Homo sapiens: one gene and its partners. The protein of the gene in region 3 purifies or fractionates together with the protein of the main gene of each other region. This does not show direct contact. Each region holds a gene or a part of one and is shown on either strand. Other genes may lie near its edges.

Evidence for each region.
Region 1: the proteins of BSPRY (region 3) and HSBP1 purify together in Homo sapiens (affinity purification with mass spectrometry; 2 studies listed by BioGRID and IntAct, with this or other methods). This does not show direct contact.
Region 2: the proteins of BSPRY (region 3) and RNF135 purify together in Homo sapiens (affinity purification with mass spectrometry; 2 studies listed by BioGRID and IntAct, with this or other methods). This does not show direct contact.

Annotation. Positions count from the first base shown.
Region 1 is NC_000016.10:83,811,419-83,818,448, reverse strand, and holds part of HSBP1 (heat shock factor-binding protein 1), read right to left. Parts: intron 7,029-7,030; 3' UTR 1-7,028. UniProt on the Homo sapiens protein: Negative regulator of the heat shock response. Negatively affects HSF1 DNA-binding activity. May have a role in the suppression of the activation of the stress response during the aging process.
Region 2 is NC_000017.11:30,995,034-31,000,436, reverse strand, and holds the end of RNF135 (E3 ubiquitin-protein ligase RNF135), read right to left. Parts: intron 3,196-5,403; coding exon 3,106-3,195; intron 1,776-3,105; coding exon 1,246-1,775; 3' UTR 526-1,245; downstream 1-525.
Region 3 is NC_000009.12:113,345,127-113,352,543, forward strand, and holds the start of BSPRY (B box and SPRY domain-containing protein), read left to right. Parts: upstream 1-4,414; 5' UTR 4,415-4,453; coding exon 4,454-4,654; intron 4,655-7,417. UniProt on the Homo sapiens protein: May regulate epithelial calcium transport by inhibiting TRPV5 activity.

The DNA.
Region 1 (7,030 bases), on a different chromosome or scaffold from region 3:
TTGTTCTGGAATACAAGTCAGCTTGAATAAATCCAAGAAATGTCTGGCAGAGTGGATGGCAGGGAACAATGTCTGGGGTCAGTGATTCCAGAGTTTTTGTGCCAGAGAGTTTCTATGGGGTCTGTTTTTCATCATGGGGAAGACAAAGTTGGGTCACAGATTATTGTTAAGACTTGTCCAAGTTTGAGAAAATGAGAGTGGCCCAGGAAAAGAATCTTCCTCGCATCTCCTTCTGAGGATGCTGGCAAAATGCGCATCTGATATAATCAACCTTCCAGACAAGGATTCTGATAGGAAACCGAGCCCTGGGGATGAGGGCTCACAGACCCAGTGCCGACCCACGGTAACCATGAACCTCTAAAATTCTACAAGCAAGACTGCGTACTTTTGACAGATGGCTTTCAAAACATTCTTTCCCTTTAAGATTCTTAATTATGGCCCCAGCGAACACAGGTTCTAATTGAGGCGCACCTGAGCCTGGCTTGCAGGAGAGATACCTATCAAAGGGAAAGGCTGATTTCTTTTGAGGGCATTGTTTTGCAGCATTTCCTGGACTTACCAGTCCTAGGCTTCTGTTCCATGAATAATTCGGTCCAGTCCTTTGCCTCAATAAGATTCTGGAGCAGAATCAGTCAAATGGTCTTATGTTTTCAGGAGAATGCACTGTTAAAAGAAACAGCCATATTATTTACATTTCCAGAAATGGCTCTTCTGATGATTATCCATAGCCCATCAAAATTAACTGCATATTCTGCATAAAAGACCTTTAAGATATTTAATATGTAAAGTTTCTTTCTGTAAACACTTACTGGGTTTTGACAGCAACTTGTAAAGACCAAGGTAAGAGGTAATAAAACTACAGCAATGGTTTACAAATGGAGGTTTTGAAGGCTGATTAGAGGGAGATGAATTCCAGCTGGAAAACTTTTTGATAATGTCAACAGCTTTCGAGAGCCTCTGAGCAGTGAATGAGATGATACAGGTGAAAGCAGCTAGCGCCATACCTGGCCCAGGACAGGCAGGAAAAATGTCAGGCAGATCTGAAGCTGAATCCGGTTACTGAGTCATCACCCATCAGGGAATCAGAAATCCTTTGATTCAAACAGTTGGGACACAAATTGTTGGGGCATGCGTGACACATGGATTGAATTGAATGCCAGGTAACGGGGGTCAAAGCCCTGATTGTCCAAGTTGGACGTGTCAGCTGGGTTGACACGGGCGTGGCGGAATCCCATGGAACTTGGTGAATTACATCATCGGACGGTTCGCAGTAGACAGGCCTTCTTGAATGCAGTTCTCGACCTCGACTGCACACTGGAGTCTAAGATGAACACTGCTGTCTGGGCCCACCCATGGGGATTCTGATGTGAGGGTTCTGTGGTGCTGCCCAGTTTTGGGCCTTTGAACTGCTCCCCAGGTGATTCTAATGTGCCACCAAGGTTGACAGTCAGCTAATTCCGATTTAACCATCTCCAGTGTTACCAGTGTTTATAATCTAGAAGTTACATCTAGAAGGTCTGTAGCAAACACTGTAGGTTGTCCACCCGATAGCCATTCTGATTTCCTTTCTGATGGAACCCTGGTATTGTTCTCTTATGTCTCCACCTCTGAGGGTCCGGAAACTATCAGCAGAACCGTTACACCAGGCTCAGGTGGTCTCATGAATGGGTTAAGCTGGGATTCCTCAACCTCAGCACTGTTGACACTTGGGGCTGTGCCACTCTTTGGGGTGAGGGTTGTCCTGTGCATGGTAGGGTGTTGACGCAGCATCCCTGGTTTCTACACTCTTGATGCCAGTAACACCCCCAACCTGAGTTGTGACAACAAAAAAACAAGAACCACATGGCTCAACCTATCATGCGGGTCCTGTTTGCCAGGATCATTTTAGGCACAGGAGTGGGGTGGAAACACCTTCAAAGAAACATTTTCTTCACTCTTAGGAGACAAAAGGGAAGAAGAAAGGCATTCTCTGACCGGATGCACCCAGGTGGAACAAATCTGGGGTTGGGTCTTTTTATTTTTTATTTATTTTTTTGTTTTTTATTTTTTGAGATGGAGTCTCGCTCTGTTACCCAGGCTGGAGTGCAGTGGCACGATCTCGGCTCACTGCAACTTCCACCTCCTGAGTTCAAGCGATCCTCCTCCCTCAGCCTCCCGAGCAACTGGGATTACAAGCGCCCACCACCACGCCTGGCTAATTTTTGTATTTTTAGTAGAGACGGGGGTTTCGCCATGTTGGCCAGGCTGGTTTAGAACTCCTGACCTCAGGTGATCCACCCACCTCGGCCTCCCAAAGTGCTGGGATTACAGGCATGAGCCACTGCGCCCGGCCGGGTCTTGCTCTTAGTTTTACTGAGGTGCAGAATTTACTCGCCCCAGAGCTGCCCTCCCTTGGGACTTCTTGCCATGTGAAATAATACATCCCACCATTGTTAAAAGGGCTGATTTTTGCTATTGGTAGCTAAACGCTTCTAAGCTGCTGGATCCTGAATCCAGACTATTCTTAATTATTGGGAAGCAATACTGTTCTCTTTTGGAAGGTGGACATTTTGCAAGACCAACGTGACTAAATGGTCAAATTCTGTTTTCTACGGTAGAGACACAGAATTTGACCATTATTAGATCATTATTGCGAAGATTATTATTGTGAAGCAGGACAGTCAAGAGTGTTCTTATGAGGCAGGGCAGCATCTACACGATAGGTATGTAGTTCATGTATGTGGTGTCTACATATGCTTTGGTAAAATGAAGCTCTGTTGATGAGACAGCCACATATTACATTTCATCATTCTCAGGGATCCCACAGAGGCTGATGTTGTACAGCTTTCAGGATCACTCGAACCCTAGGCAGCGGTCTGAGGAGCTTCCAGCCACCTCTTAGTGAGAGCCTCAGGTGTGAGGACCAAGCGTTAGGATCCGCCCTTTTTTTTTTTTTTTGAGACAGGGTCTTGCTCTGTCACCCCGGCTGGAGTGGAGTCGTCCGATCACAGCTCACTGCAACCTCGACTTCCTGGGCTCAAATGATCCTCCCACCTCAGCCTCCTGAGTAGCTGGGAGCACAGATGTGTGCCACCACACTCTGGGCTAATTTTTCTACTTTTTTGTAGAGATGGAGTCTCAGTATATTGCCCAGGCTGGCCTTTTTTTCTTTTTTAAAATACTGTCATCCTGACTTGTTGAAACAAACCCTTTTCCTATTTCCATATTAATTTGTAGGGTTGATAAGTGCAATGTTCAATCACAATTCCTCTGGTTTTGTTTTTGGGCAGTGACTTGCATCTCCCCTCCCTCATTTTCATTCATTGAAAAGTTCTCAAGTGGCTGCAGCTAAAATCAGACACTTAAAATTAATGCAAGATTAAGATTCCAGGTGATGGCTTCTTCATGAGTCCATTTAAAAGTCTTCGTTGCAATAAAAAAAAAACACCACAAAACAAAAAACAGTGAAATCCAATAGGATGGTAAGCTAATAGGTCACGGAGTGGCGGGGGGGTGTCTTTTTATCCCCCGGGTTGGGCCTCAAGCAATAATTTTTGTGGGAGACAGGACAGGTATAGGCATGGAAAACCAATGTGAAAACCTGTGGTTCATATTCCCCGTGGTTGTGCTCTGGGCAAATGTTTGAGGAATGTCATTTGTTTCTGTTGTTGTTCTCAACTGATTTAGGAGAAAAAAGGCACTGATCCAGGAGCACACATTTTCTACCAGCTCTGAATAGTTTAAATTCCAAATAAAAACTCACATCCAGTGTGTTTATTACTTAATTTTAGGTCATGTTTAATTGAAAACACTCCATCAGCCTTTTGAAAGTAAATTTTGAGATCCAGCCAGTGGGGCTGATGATTTCCAGACAGCCTGGACAGCTGAGATTCGGAGCTCAGCTCACACGAAGAGGCAGACGATCAGCTGTGTTCGTGAGCAGTGCAGGTGTGCAGCTGTGAGACGGTCAGCTGTGCTCGTGAGCGGTGCAGGTGTGCAGCTGTGAGACGGTCAGCTGTGTTTGTGAGCGGTGCAGGTGTGCAGCTGTGAGGACATTCCAGGGTCATCATTACCAGCTGTGACCTTGTGCCCCTGACTCCCCGTCTTGGGTTCCTTTTCTTTAAATATGACTCATCAAATGAAAACCTCTCAGTGTTGTTGTGAGGATTAAGCCAAACAGTGCAAACAAAAGGCTTAGCACAGTACAGCGGTTTACAGTCAATGCTTTCAATGGCGCTAGCTGTGAACATTTGGTAACTGTAACCAGTTAACTTTCAGGGCTAGATATGACAACACATCCTGCAAATTCCTCCATTTTAATCTAATCAAAATATATAATGTGCAAAATACAAAATAAAAGAGGAACACAGTGTCTGCTTGGGAAGGCTTCCATTTACAAACAGCATGTTGAAAAAGTTCACTTTTGTTTGGAGGACTCTATGTTCCCATAGCAACAGTGCTCTAAGTGTGTGTGTGTGGGGCTTAAATTCCAAGGACTCACAAGGGCAAATTAACTCTTAGTTACGTGAAATATTGTGTTAGTCCTGATAGGGTTAAACAATGACTGTACTTGTAGTGAAACAAAGAAAAAATTGATATGAAAATAAGATTGAAATATTTTAAAATCCTGTGGCTCAAAGGAAAGCAGGATGAACTAGGGGCCAAATGAAGAAGCTGTGGGGCCTTGGGGTTTGAGACAGGGCACTTAATTAAATGTAACGCTGTTTTCCTTGGTGCGAGGGCCCCCATACTCATCTGTATTGTTCAGCCCTCAAGAGAATCTTCACTGGCTGGTAAACGAACAAGAATAGCTGGAGAAGGAATACTTCATATAGTATAAAAAAGACCCTTGGACAGGCATGGTGGCTCCAGCCTGTAATCCCAGCACTTTGGGAGGCTGAGACAGGACTGCTTGAGCCTAGGAGTTCTAGACCAGCCTGGGCAACACAGCAAGACCCAGGTGCGGTGGCACGAACCTGTAATATTAGCTACTTGGGAGGCTGAGGCAGGAGGACTGCCTGAGCCCAGGAGCTTCAGGCTCCAAGTGAGCTATGACTGTGCCACTGCACTCCAGCCTGGGCAACAGAGCGAGACCTCGAAAACTAGCAGGTGAGCAGGTTAAAGCTGAGTTCTCTGCTCTACTTTCAGAGTCTTTAATATGCTAATTTCTTCATGAGGTTCACAGAATGTCGTCTAAACCCAAGTGACCATAACCCCTTCCTTCCTGCAGCATCTCCAGGGGCAAGAGTTCTGGGAACACACCTGAGACAAGTCTCCTGCAATGCCAGTCTTGGCAAGCCCTCCTCCCGCTCCTCAGCTTCCCCTTCCAGCAGGCAACCTCCCCCAACACCCCCTCTCCTGCTTTGCCTTGGGCTACTTGTACTTAATCCGTCCAGAGGTTTTAGTTGATACTCTAATGTGATTTCTGCATTTCCATCTGAAAACCAAACAGATTTTTGACACAAAGGAAGCTTCATAGCAGGATTTCAGGCACCTTTATTCATGGCAGATATTTTTGGTCAGGGCAGCCTGCCTTTGAAATCGTTCCATTACTTGAGGAGGTCGACTCCTGCCTAAGTCACAACTCTCCTACAACCGCAACCGGCCATATCATTTCCATTTGCCACTTCCGAGGCTTGAGAACATCACCAGGGACGCAGGTTTCGGATGGTCTGGTCAATGCTGCAGTGTGTGTGGGGCATTCGGGGGCTCCAGCCTGCATCACAACCTACTGGCCTGATCAAAGGAGGTTCTGTAGTTGGGTAACCAGAGTGGTGAATTCATTTTATCACAGAAGGATCTCACTCCTTTATGTTCCCCATGTAATTTGTATACAGCACAAATTATTTCTTACTTTGATAGATTTGCAATATAAACACCAAGACTGGTGAGATGAGAAACTTAAAAAAATCATGTTTTTCAAATTTTCAAGTTTTTGTGTAAAAGCACTTTGTGGTGACAATCATATGGATCACCTTCCAGGTCATCAGTATTGGCCTCTAGGTTTAGCACTCCTGGCACTGCATTTTTGAGTGGCCAGAGATAAAGGTATTATCCCTGTCTTCTATAATCAATGATAACATTGACACTCTGCAAGAATTTAGATAAGAAACAGTTTAAGTAAAATAGTGTTTTTTAAAAACTTGAGTCTACTACAAGTCGTTGATCATATTCTAGCCAAGCAACTGGCATGGACTTAATATGGTCTCTTTTCCTTCTCTCTTTCTTTTCAAGTCACTAGCTCAAAGGAAAGACTGATTGAGTTTTAAAATCCTGCCAGATTTTTTATGGTAACCATTGTAGATGAACCACGTAGGTAGGGTCCTACTGAAGTATTAGAATCTCATGCAAAACTCTAACAAACGCCTCATTACAGAAGGCTATTCTGTTATTTTCTGTACTGTAAAAGTTCTGACACAAGACAGTGGCAGTGGTTACTTTTCATCGACTTTAGCATGTGATCTCAGGGACTCAGACATACGTCTAAGTTCTATTCTGAGTTTTGGCAACAGAGCAGTGACAGATATTTCTGAATGAACAATTTTTAGGTGTTTTCAGCCATTTGAAAAGTATTGCCAACACACTATTTGGTGTTAGCTCAACAGTCACGTTGTGCCAAGAATTAAAGAACTCTAAAGTCTACAAACATCTTACTTCACCAAGACTAACTATAATTGAAGGGTTTACTATTTGTTTAATAAAAAATCACACATCAACTTTTATCCAAACAGCAACTACTACAAAAGGAATGACAAGAAAAAAAATGACTTCACAGAAATACACTAAAAAATCTGACAATGTTATGCAAGAACCGCCAAAGTTTTAGTGTTTAATAATGAATAGCACAACTGACCAAGGTCCAAGATGTGAAGATACCATGTTCAAGAAACTGGGGGGAAATCACTCTACAAACTAACTATATACTAGGTGATAAGAATGCATACTTTATAATATAAAACCTGTCTACACATAGTAGTTAGCTGCAAAAAGCCATTCGATCTTCTCTTGGCTTGGAAAAATGCCAGATTCCAGTATAAATTATTAGCAACCT
Region 2 (5,403 bases), on a different chromosome or scaffold from region 3:
CACACCACTGCACTCCAGCCTGGGCATCAAGAGTGAGACTCCGTCTCAAAAAAAAAAAAAAGATTTTGCGTCATCTGGCTAGGAGACCCTCTCCCTTATTGTCTTTGAGGAAACAAGCAGCTGTGTTGCAAAGGCCTATGGGGTAAGGAACTGAGGGCGGTCTCCAGCCAACAACCAGAAAGAAACTGAGGCCCTCAGTCCGGCAACTCAAGAACTGAAGGCTGCCAATGACCATGTAATTTGGAGGCAGATCCTTCCCCATTGGAGCCTCAGATGACCCTGTGTCCCCAGCTGACATGTTGATTGCAGCTTGTAAAACTCTGATGTAGGAGACTCAGCTAAGCTATGCTCTGACTCCTGACTCACAGAAACTGTGAAATAATATCTATGTGTTATTTTAAACCATTAAATTTGTGGCAATATTCTTACATAGCAACTGATAAGTAGCAAATTATGTTTAGAGATCCTCTGAGACTGCCCTCAGGTTCAGTGATTCACTAGAAGGACTCACAGAACTCAGCAAAGTGTTGCACTCATAGTTACAGTTTATTACAGTGAAAGGATACAGATTAAAATCAGCAATGAAGAAAGGCACATAAGGTAAGGTCCAAGAGAACTTCCAATTATCCTCTCCTGGCAGAGTCTTCAGGATAATGCTTAATTCTCCCAGCAATGATGTGTGGCTACAATGATGTGTGCACAGAGTATTACCAACCAGAGTAGCTCACCCATGCCTAGGTGTCCAGGGCTTTTACTAGGGATTGATCACATTGGCATGCTTCACTGCCCACATGGCTAACTTAGTCTCCTCAGCTTGACCTTGCAAGGTCAAGCTGATACTGCATGGCCCAAGGCCCACAGGTAAACAAAAACACTCTTATCAGGCAAGATATTCTAATGGCTTAGAGGTTATCTCCCAGGAGCCAGGCAGGGGCCTATTCTTTATTTGGAATGTCCAGGGTTCAAACATCCCAAGTTCATCCTGTATCACACAAAAGGATTAACTTCAAAAGTGGTATTCTTGGCCAGGTGTGGTGGCTCACACCTGTAATCCCAGCACCTTGGGAGGCTGAGGTGGGAGGACTGCTTGAGACCAGGAATTCGACACCAGCCTGGGCAACCTAGTGAGATCCCATCTCTATCGTAATTTTTCTAAAAAGTGGTATTCTTAAGTCAAGTTACTACCCTGATTGATGACAGGGAGAGAGACCAGGAAACCACTGTGTTGTAATCCCTTAGGAAACCTTACACCTTTACTTGCTTTATTATCAGGTAATTTCCAGGATGTAAGCCATACAGCCAGAAGGCAGGGTACAAAGGAGAGGAGGCAGAGATGGTACACTCATACAGAAGCTTCTCCTGATTGTCCACTGAATAGAAGGCAAGCTTTCCCTCCTCAAGGTTCAGCCAGATGCCCACCACCCCAGGTCTGTCTGAGCCAAGGACAGTTTCCTTGACCATGTGCCATGCAGAGAGCTGGCTAGTCCCCTTCCATTCCACACAACAAGAGTCCATAGTCCTTCCCAGGACCTGGTCGCGGCTCATCTCCCAGGAAGCCACCCCAACTGCCCAGTGGCTGCAATTCCTAGTGTCCACTTCCCAGTAATGCTTTCCAGAAGACAGGGCCTGGGAACATAAGACCTGGCTGGTAGAAAACCTCTCACAGCTCCAGCGATAGGGTTGTGGGCGGTGAGACACAGTCACTGTACGGGAATCCTTGGACACCTCCAGGCTGCAGGAAAGGCTCTTCAAGTTAAAGGTTGGATGGATGGCCCCTTTGGAAAAAAAAAAAGAACAATAAGAACATGGCCGGTCATCTTTTGATGGTCCATGCTAAGAAGTCTTCAAATAGCAACTTTGTATCTTTTGGTGTGATGTTTCACTCACACTAGCATTAAAATTGCTACATCACCCAACAGGAAGAAATGATAAATGTTTCAGATGATAGATATGCTAACTACCTTGATCGGATCACTATGCACCATATGTATTGAAACATCACTATGTATCCCATAAATATGTACACTTATTATATTTATTTATTTTTAAAATTTATTTAGAAAAGAAGCAGGATTTTGCCATGCTTCCTAGGCTGGTGTCGAACTCCTGAGCTCCAGCAATCCTGCCATCTCAGCCTCCCAAAGTGCTGCAATTACAGGCATGAGCCACTGCACCCAGACTATACAATTATTATATGTCAATTTTAAAAATCAGGCCAGCTCCTTCAGCCAGGTGCACTGGCTTACCCCTGTAATCCCAGCACTTTGGGAGGCTGAGGCAGGTGGAACACTTGAGGCCAGGAGGTCAAGACCAGCCTGGCCATCATGGCCAACTCCTGTCTCTATTAAACATACCAAAATTAGCTGGGCGTAGGCAAGGTGCGGTGGCTCACGCCCGTCTTATGGTGATTTATGACCACAGCTGTTTATACCTTCCCAGTTAAACTGAAACTTCCTGATTGAGGACCATGTCTTACTCACTTTGTATATTTCATTTGGTTTCCTATTGAGTGAATAAATTGCTAACACTTATACAGCATGACTACTCTAGGTGTTTTACTCATACTCACTCACTTAACCCTCATGGCAATCCCGCAAGAGAAGTACTATATTATCTCCATTTTACAGATGAGGAAACCCAGGCTCTAGGAAGCTTAAGTGACTTGCCCAAGATCACACAGCTAGTTAGTGGAGCTGCTGGGAGTCAAACCCAAGCAGTCTGGCTCTGGGATCCATGCTCTTAAGGACTATCCCAGACTGAGATGGCAGAAATACCTCAGCAGGTTTAGGAAGAGGCAGTTGGCTATAGTTGGTGGCCACAGCACAGATGCAGAAATACCTCAGCAGGTTTGGGAACAGGCAGTTGGCTGTAGTTGGTGGCCACAGCAGAGATGCTCAAAGGTTGGCGGGACTCTGAGTGCTCTTGGGTCTAGAGTCTCAACCTGCTTTGCCTTTGCAATCAGCTCCCCCCGTGGAGGGACCTGGAACAAATCCATGTGCAGTAAGCCAAGGAGTGGCCCTAGCAGTAGGGAGATGGATGTAGGATATTCTCGAAGCCCGCTCTGCGGCAAGCCAAACCCATGTTTAAAGTGGACCACATACTTACACTGAGCAAACCGAGAAGCTCTCCTGAGTGCAGGGTGGCTCTGGTCAGGCAATGGGCATGAGGAGGAAGACGGGGCTTCCAGGAGTTCTCCTAAGTAACAAAAAAATTAACAGAGGAAAGTCCCATCAGAAAAAGGCAAACTGAAGGTCTCCAAACATCATGGTCAAGGCACATGGCTGGCTTGTCTTCTTATCATCTACACATTTTTCAGTGTCAGGACTGGATCAGGCAGAGGCAGTGTGCCTGCAGCCCAGGTATGTGCACCTCCATGTTCTCACTGTGGACTTTTCACTCTTTCTTCACTAAGCTCTCAGCTCCTTGCTAGCAAAGATCTTGTTCATCTATATGTTCTAAGCACCAAGCCCCATGCCAGTCCCATAGATAGAAGGTGTTTTATGCACACTCATGAAATAAAATCAACTAATACAGTTCCAGGGGATTGCAGCACCCTAACACCTAGAATATCCAGGACCCCCAAGTCAATGTTTTAAACTGTTGTTACATAAACTGGGTAACATGAGTTGGGGTGAGATTCATCACCATTGCTGACACCTCCTAATTCCCTCTCGATGTGCTAAAGTTTAATTATTAACTTAAAGCAGTCATGTGTGCTAGAGTGCAATGACCACGTCAGGCAGATGATAAGTAAGGGAAGTCCTAGAGTGCAGACTTTGAAGGCAAAATCTTGTCCTACTTGTATCTTGAAGTGACAGCAGCTGCAGTGAATCTAAGACTCCACCTGAGAAGAGATGAAAGACCTTGTCTAGGGTGTGCCTGTGGTAACTTAGGTCATGAGAGCAAGAGAGCTGCCTGTAAAGAGGCCAGTCTCAAAATTCAACTCGGAACTGAAGCAATCCCTGTGTCCAGAGACAGAAAAATGGATAAAGAAATGTGATATATACATACAATGGAATATTATTTAGCCTTAAAAAGTAACGAATACTGCCTGGGCGCAGTGGTTCACACCTGTAATCCCAGCACTTTGGGAGGCCAAGACAGGCAGATCACAAGGTCAGGAGTTCAAGACCAGCCTGGCCAATATGGTGAAACCCCATCTCTACTAAAAATACAAAAATTAGCTGCGTGTGGTGACACATGGCTGTAATCCCAGCTACTTGGGAAGCTGAGGCAGGAGAATCACTTGAACCTGGGAGGCGGAGTTTGCAGTCAGCCGAGATCGCACCACTGACTCCAGCCTGGGAAACAGAGTGAGACTCCATCTCAAAAAAAAAAAAAAAAAAAAGTAATGAATTCTGCCTGGGCGTGGTGGCTCACGCCTGTAATCCCAATACTTTGGGAGGCTGAGGCGGGCGGATCACCTGAGGTCAGGAGTTCGAGACCTGCCTGGCCAACATGGCGAAACCCCATCTCTACTAAAAAATACACACACACACACACACACACAAAACTAGTCAGGGGTGGTAGCACATGCCTGTAATCCCAGCTACTACTAGGGAGGCAGAGGTGGGAGAATTGCTTGAACCCGGGAGGCAGAGGTTGCGGTGAGCCAAGATCGCACCACTGCACTCCAGCCTGGGTGACAGAGCAAGACTCCGTCTCAAAAAAAAAAAAAGTAACAAATTCTGATATATGCTACAACATAGGTGAGCTTGGAGGACATTATGCTAAGTGAAATAAACCTCTCACACACTAATACTGTATGATTCCACTCACATGAGGTATCTAGAATAGTCAAATTCATAGAACAGAAAGTGGAATAGTGGTTGCCAGGTAGGAGGGGGTTGAAGGAATGTGGAATTGTTGCTTAATGGGTATAGAGTTTCAATTCTGCAACATGAAACCAGGCATGGTGGCCCATGCTTATAGTCCCAGCTAGTTAGGAGGCTGAGGCAGCAGGCTCACTTGAGGCCAGGAGGAGTTCCAGACCAGCCTGGGCAACATAATGAGACCCTGTCTCTACAAAACAATTCTTTTTTTTTTTTTGAGACTGAGTCTCGCTCTGTCGCCCAGGCTGGAGTGCGATGGCGCAATCTCAGCTCACTGCAAGCTCCACCTCCCGGGTTCACGCCATTCTCCTGCCTCAGCCTCCTGAGTAGCTGGGACTACAGGCGCCCACCACCACACCCAGCTAATTTTTTTGTATTTTTAGTAGAGACGGGGTTTCACCGTGTTAGCCAGGATGATCTCGATCTCCTGACCTAGTGATCCACCCGCCTCGGCCTCCCAAAGTGCTATGATTACAGGCGTAAGCCACTGTCCCGGCCAAAACAATTCTTTAAATAGCTGAGCATGGTGGTGTGGGCCTATAGTCCTGGCTACTGGGGAGGCTGAAGCAGG
Region 3 (7,417 bases):
TTCTACACCATCCTTTCTACACCAGCACCTCCATCATGCTCTTTTTCTTGTAATACTTGAATCTTTTTCATAGCCCTTATCATTACTGACATTATATTACATATCCATTTGTTGCATTTTATTTGTGCATGAAAGTAGACTTTGTTCTTCTTGACTGTTGTATCCCCAGTGTCTAAGGCCTGGCACATTGGCAGGGGCTCAATAAATCTGTTGAATGACTAAAATGTAACAATGGTGTCCATTCTTCTCTCCCTAGCTCAGAGTGCCTGAAGTTCAAGTACAGCCCTGCCTATGCCCATGAAGCCTCCAGAGGTCCCCTAAGAGCTCTAAGCAGCTTTCAAATTTTTTTGACCTCATAAAGAAGTACATTCATTCTCCACGGTGCATATGTACGTATATATAGGCCAAAGACAAAATTACAACAAATGTAGTTGAGTGATCTTATTGGCTTTTATTAGCACTTCTAGAATCAGGCAACACCTAATTCTATAAAACAGAATGTTCCAATGAGCTGAACAGAGGACATGGGCTTTATAGGTAGAAAAGAGCTGGAAAAAAAAAGAGGATTACTCATTTCAAAGTTACTTTCCTTTTAGGGTTAAAACAGAGAGGACTTCCTTATCATGCCAGCTAATTCTGTACTGTTTGGGGATTTTAATATGCTCTCTCTTTCTCTTTTTCTCTCCCAATTTCTTGGAAGTTCAGATAAACTACTTAGTTTTGGTTTGGTGAAGTGGCAGTTTAGCATGAGTAACTCCATTTTGTTTTGGTTTGGTATGGTGGGGCCTAGTGTGGAAGCCCAGTCCAAAACAACGACCTTCCATCCATTTTGTTTACCTATATATATGTAATTGAAACAACAAAAACCTTACTAAGAGCATGTTTTCTGTTCTTTATTCTTTTCTTTTTTTCTCTTTTGGAGACAGAGCCTCACTCTGTCACCCACCACCCAGGCTGGAGTGCAGTGGTATAGTCTCTGCTCACTGCAACTTCTGCCTCCCGGGTTCAAGTGATTCTTCTGCCTCAGCCTCCCAAGTAGCTGGGACTACAGGCATGTGCCATCACGCCTGGTTAGTTTTTGTATCTTTAGTAGAGACGGAGTTTCACCATGTTGGCCAAGCTGGTCTCGAACTCCTGACCTCAGGTGATCCACCTTCCTCAGCCTCCCAAAATGCTGAGATTACAGGCGTGAGCCATTGTGCCCAGCCTTTTCTTTCTTTTTATAAAAGATGCTGATCTCCACCCCTTGAATTTCTTGATATGCCACCTAATAAAGGGTTGCCACTGCCTTAGGGCAGTGTTTCTAGAAACAGTCAAGGGGCTCCTTTGCATCCTAGTCAAGGAGTGACTGCCACAGATGCAGCTTCTTGGCTTCATCCCAGACTTAATGGATGAAAATCTTACCGGAAAGTCTGCGTGTTTTACAACTCCTCCTCTTTCCCCTCCTGACCATCCCCTGTCCTCCAACGATTCCGAAGCCTGATAAAGCTTAAGAGCTATAACCGGGGAGTTTATGAGTATCCCAGATGTGTCCTGCAGGGCTTGATGAACAGATAGGGAAAGGGCGATTCTCCAGTTCCAGTCCAACTTGGCTCATAAGTGGTGAAACAGAGGAACCCGACTTGATAAAAGTAAATCTACTCCTACCTTAGCCCTTTGCATTTGCTGATGCCACTACCTGAAAGTAATTCTGGTGATTTAGGGGCTGTTTTCCAGATCCTGGACCTGGTAGGGCCAATGACTGCTCTAGGGCCACACCCAGTGAAGGCCCCCCTCCCCCCCCCCCACCTTTCCCTAAGGATTTTAACCCTTGTTCCTCCCCCTGCCCTCCACAACCTCTTTTCTTTCTTTTCTTTTCTTTTCTTTCTTTCTTTCTTTTTTTTTTTTTTTGAAACAGAGTGTTGCTCTGTTGTCCAGGCTGGAGTGCAGTGGCGCGATCTCAGCTCACTGCAACCTCCACCTCCTGGGTTCAAGCGATTCTCATGCCTCAGCCTCCCCAGCAGCTAGGATTACAGGTGTGCACCACCATGCCCGGCTAATTTTTGTGCTTTTAGTAGAGACGGGGTTTCACCATGATGGCCAGACTGGTCTCGAACTCCTCAAGTGATCCGCCTGCCTCAGCCTTCCAAAGTGCTGGGATTACAGGCATGAGCCACTGCTCCTGGCCACACAACCTCTTTTCTTTTTAGCCTTCACACAAAAAGCACCTCCTATTTTCTTTGTTTTCACCATAGGGTTTAATAATTCCCCATCCCCAGTCCTTAGAAGGAAAAAATTCTAACCACAATCTCTAATTACCATGGCCTATTTCCCTCCCCACCCCCAGAGGAGTGTAGATGCTGTTATGAGGCCATCACCCTCCCACTGGGATGCACTGGAAACTTCTTTAGATGCCAGGAAAGCAGCACCCCTGTCGCCAAAGAACCTCACACAATTTACATTCTGAAACCTGCTACAACTGTATTTACAGATCCTCACACATATAATAAAACCTTTTATTATCCCCTACTGTATATCAGACACCCAAAGTAAATACTTTGTAGACAAGATCTCATTTCATTCTTGAAGTAGCCCTCTAAGGTAGATGATAGTATTATTATCACCTCTGTTGTAGAGATAAGAAAACAGACACAGAAGCTGTGAGTAACCTGACCAAGATCCCATAGCTGTAAGCTGCATAGCTGGGATGAAACCAATGACTATATTTCACTCAGTGTTCTCTCTAATCATATGGTGTAATATTGTCTATCTGGGGTGACAATGTGTCCCCATTGGATGATGACACCACTGTGTACCGCTCTGGGTAGCTCTGGGGCTGTTAGCTGCCCTTACCCCTCAGGTGCTAAAGCAGTAGTGGCTGAGAAGGAAAGGGTTCTATCTCCTTTGTGTGGCCATTGCTTAGAGAAGCTTCAGAGTAGAGGTGCTAGAGCCCCTGTGAGCTATGGGATGTAATGTTTCTCTTTCGGTTTAGCTCCCGCCTGTGTTCAGTTCTGATGCACTCAGAGTACTCTCTGACACCTGAAGGCCTGGGCCCTTCCCCTTTTGAGAGAGTGCCCAGCTTTCTGCCAAGACTCCTAAGAAAGAATTTGGGGTTGGTGGCCGGGCGCGGTGGCTCACACCTGTAATCCCAGCACTTTGGGAGGCTGAAGGGGGGAGATGGCTTGAGCCCAGGAGTTTGAGATCAGCCTGGGCAACATGGCAAAACCCTGTCTCTACGAAAAATACAAAACTTAGCTGGGCACGGTGGCATGTGCCTGTAGTCCCAGCTACTCAGGAGGCTGAGGTGGGAGGATCACTTGAGCTGGGGAGGTCGAGGCTGCAGTGAGCTATGATTACACCACTGCACTCCAGCCAGGGTGACACAGTGAGACCCTATCTCAAAAAAATAAAAAAAAATAAAAAAAAAAAAGAAGAAGAAGAATTTAGAGCTGGAGAGCAGCGTTCTCCTTGTATGCCCAGACAGACTAGACTGGATCCCCAGCAGAGGGCTCAATCTGGGCTCAGACTAATATATAAGATCCTGAGGGTGGGAAAAGCCCTAAACAGCTCAGGAACATGTTAGCAGTTTTTCTTTCTGGGGTGGGAGTGGGTGGATTTTTCTTCCACATGCTTATTTGCATATTTTGTTTTCTTCGAAATAAAAAGGCATTACTTTTTTTCAATGCTAGTTTAAAAAGAAAACTCAAATATTCAAATTCAAAAAGTTTGGATGTAAATACTTTGGGAAAATCAGCCTAATACAGATATTTCTCACTGGGCCTCAATGTTCAATTTAAAAAATTATTAATTATAGTAACCTTAAGTCACACTGCCTAGGTTCCAATCTCATAGCTACCAATTAGTAACTGTGACCCTTGGCAAGCCACTTAACTTCCATAAAAATGGGATCCTAATAGTACTTTCCTCGCACTGTTAGTAGACACTTAGCGATTGCAGCTGCTATGTTCCAGATATTGTTTTACGTATTTAGCGTATTTACTCCTCAGACGTCTGGGAGGCAGGTACTCTCACCCCATTTTACAGCTGGAGTTCCCACCCAGTGAGCAGCCAAACGGGATTTGAACCAGGCAGTTTCTCAGCAGAGCCTTGCTTGAAGCTAGGCATCTAAAGCTGCCTCTCAAAAAGGGCAGTGGTCGGGATTACATAACAGAACGCTTGCAAAGCTCTCAGCGAAAGCCTGGCACTTAATAAGTGCTCAATAAAGTTTCCTACGGTCACAGTAATATTTGGAGTTTTATGTTTGTTGTAGAACAAATACGCATACAATCGCGATTTCATTCAACAAGGAATTTAAAGAGACCTGCTGCCCCGGGCGGGATGGGAGCGCGGGTTGGGTGGGAGGAGGCGCAGCTGCGGGGCGCGCTGGCGCACCGGGAGGGCCGGGGGCGGGGTCAGCCAGGCCCCGCCCGCCGCCACCTGCGACAGGTGGAGCGCACGGGGCGGGCGCACGGCCATGTCCGCCGAGGGCGCGGAGCCGGGGCCGGGGTCCGGGTCCGGGCCCGGGCCGGGGCCACTCTGCCCCGAACACGGCCAGGCTCTGAGCTGGTTCTGCGGCTCCGAGCGACGGCCCGTGTGCGCCGCCTGCGCGGGGTTGGGCGGTCGCTGCCGGGGGCACCGCATCCGCCGGGCGGAGGAGCGCGCCGAGGAGCTGCGGGTGAGCGGGTGTGGGCGCCGGAAGGCGAGGGCTCCGGAGACCCCGGGCGCGCCTGGCGGGACCCGGCAGGGACTGGGGAGCCTGGGGCTGGGCGGACTCGACACCCGGCCCCGGAGCCTAGGCTCCTCGGTGGCTTTGGCTGTAGGACTAGGCGGTTAAGGGTGTGGCCTCTGAAGTCAGGCTGGCCTGAGTTCGAATCTACTCCCTGTGAGTCACGTAACTCTGAGCCTCAGTGTCTTCATCTGTAGTTTGGGGACAACAACAATAATAATAGCGCGTATTTATTAGAGTTGTGAGAAATAAATAAGATAGTGGGTAAAATGCTTAGCGATAAGGGGATCCAGGCTCCCCAGGCCCCTTCCATTGCTCTGTTGAGGAAGCTGGGGCTGGCATGAAAGGCTCAGCTGCTCCAGTTCTCAGCGCAGGGTGTGCCCCAGCTCCCGCCCCTGTGGAAACTGACACTGATAAAATCCAGCGCGACCGTATCCCTTAACCCCTGGACTCAAAGCCCCCCTCCTCCTTTCGCCTCTTCCCCCTGCTCCTAACCCCTTCTGGCTTCTGGTGCGGTGATCTCTTTTTCGCTTTCAGGATTGGCCTTGACTGTACTTCAGGCTGGTTTAAGGGCTTCAGCTGGATAAACGGTGGGGGTAGGGAGAATATCAGGGGATTCCCCTTCACCCAGGCTTTCTCGCCACCTCCACTTCCAGCTCGGCTCCAGGGTGGCCACCTCCTTGTCATCACCATTCTCCTGAGCTGCTGAGATTGGGAGAGTCGAAGTCACCTTGGGCTTCTCTGTGGCCCCTGGGGATTTCCTTGCAATTTGATTAAACAGCTTGTTTCTCCCAACCCGACTCTGCAGTTCACCCCTGCTGTGAAGCCTGAGGGCTCTGGCTGGGGACTTCGCCTACCCAGAGTGACCTGTAATAAACACATCTTATATAGGGTGCTGGGCTCGGGAGGGGTTCAGTTTTTCAGCAACACCCAAAAGCTCCTGGTTCGTCCTACCTGTTACCTCTATCAACAATAATGATGACAAAAATAAACCTGGATAACGCGGTGTAATCAACTTGCATAATGGACAAAAAAATTTGCAAACTCCAAAGTACTTAAATGTCTGTCATCTCATTCTGTCTTGACCACGCCTTTGAAGGGGTCCTACCTACATTTTACAGATGAGGCACTGGAGGCTCGGAACAAGGCAGTAACTCCTCCAAGCTTCCTAATGTTCAGGGGTGGGACCCAGGGAGTCATTGACTAGGCAAGAGGAAACTGCTGCTTTGCTTCGGCGGTTGGAGGGAGGAAGTGATGCTAATGGGGGTGAGAATGTCATGGAAACCTTAAAAGTAGCTATCAGGACTGGATTTGAGTGGTGGAAAGAGTGAAGCCTCGGGCAGGTGGCAGGCCTGGTGCTAGTTTCGGTACTACCCTAGGGAACCTTCTTTGAACCCCTCTGAGGCCGTATGCATATTTATCTCCTTTGCCTGAAGGGAGGTGGGTCTTACCCTCTCTTCCACCAAATTAGAGTAGATTTCTGTCTTTTGCACATTCCTTCCTCTATCCATCCAGTCAGCAAATAAATCTCACCCTAGGGCAAGATTATTACCAAAACCAGCACCAGTTCTACTGCTCTCCTACCTCTGGATTCCTGCCCTGTGGTTTTTCAGAAGCCTTCTCAGTGCTCTTAGTCCATGGTGCATGGTGATCACAGCTTCCTCCTAGTCAACTCAATTCTGTAACTTTGTATTTGGACCTATGAAATGTAACTAATTTCTACTTCTGGGTGGAAAGATTTACAAGGGCTTCCTGGAAGAGGTAGCTAAGTTGCCTTTTGGCAGATGGAACTGAGGCAGAACTCTTAGGGGGAACAGTGGAGGGACTGCTGCTTGGATAGGCTCTAGGTATCACCTGGAGAAACGGAGAGCAAAAGCAGGGCCCTGGCCCATACCTTCTTGGGGAAGTCACTTCTCTTTGGGCCTCAGCTTTCCCGTTTCTTTCTCTTTCCTTTTTTTTTAAAATTTATTTACTTATATTTATTTATTTTTGAGACAGTCTCACTCTGTCACCCAGGCTGGAGTGTGGAGTGCAGTGGTGCTATTTCAGCTCACTGCAACCTCTGCTTCCTAGATTCAAGAGATTCTCCCACCTCAGCCTCCCGAGTAGCTGGGACTACAGGCGCATGCCACTACGCCTGGCTAATTTTTGTATTTTTTGGTAGAGATGGGGTTTCACCACGTTGGCCAGGCTGGTCTCGAACTCCTGATCTCAGGTGATCCGCCCACCTCAGCCTCCCAAAGTGTTGGGATTACAGGTGTGAGCCACCGTGCCCGGCCAGCTTTCCCATTTCTAAAACTCCCCTGAGCTCATGGATGATGCTCATAGCTTTGAGAGCCATGAACTGCTGAACCTCTTGTGGTCAAGGCAGTGGGTGTTCGTTCATTCAACAAATATTTATTCAGGGCCTTCTATGTTCAGAAACTCTCTTTGAGGTACTAGGACATAGAGAAGTCAGACTTATGGTGCTTCTGTTCCAGTGGTGGGGGAGACAGATACCCAAAAAGGTAAACAAACACATAATATATAGTCAGAGAGTTATAAGTGCAAGGGAGAAAAATAAAGCAAAGTAAGAGATTGGGTGAGGAGGGAGATGGTCAGGGAAGACCTCTCTGAAGAGATGACATCTGAATGCAGTTGGGGAGTGAGACACACACACACACACACACACAGACTGGTGGAAACGGAACTGCAGGTGCAAAGGCACTGAAG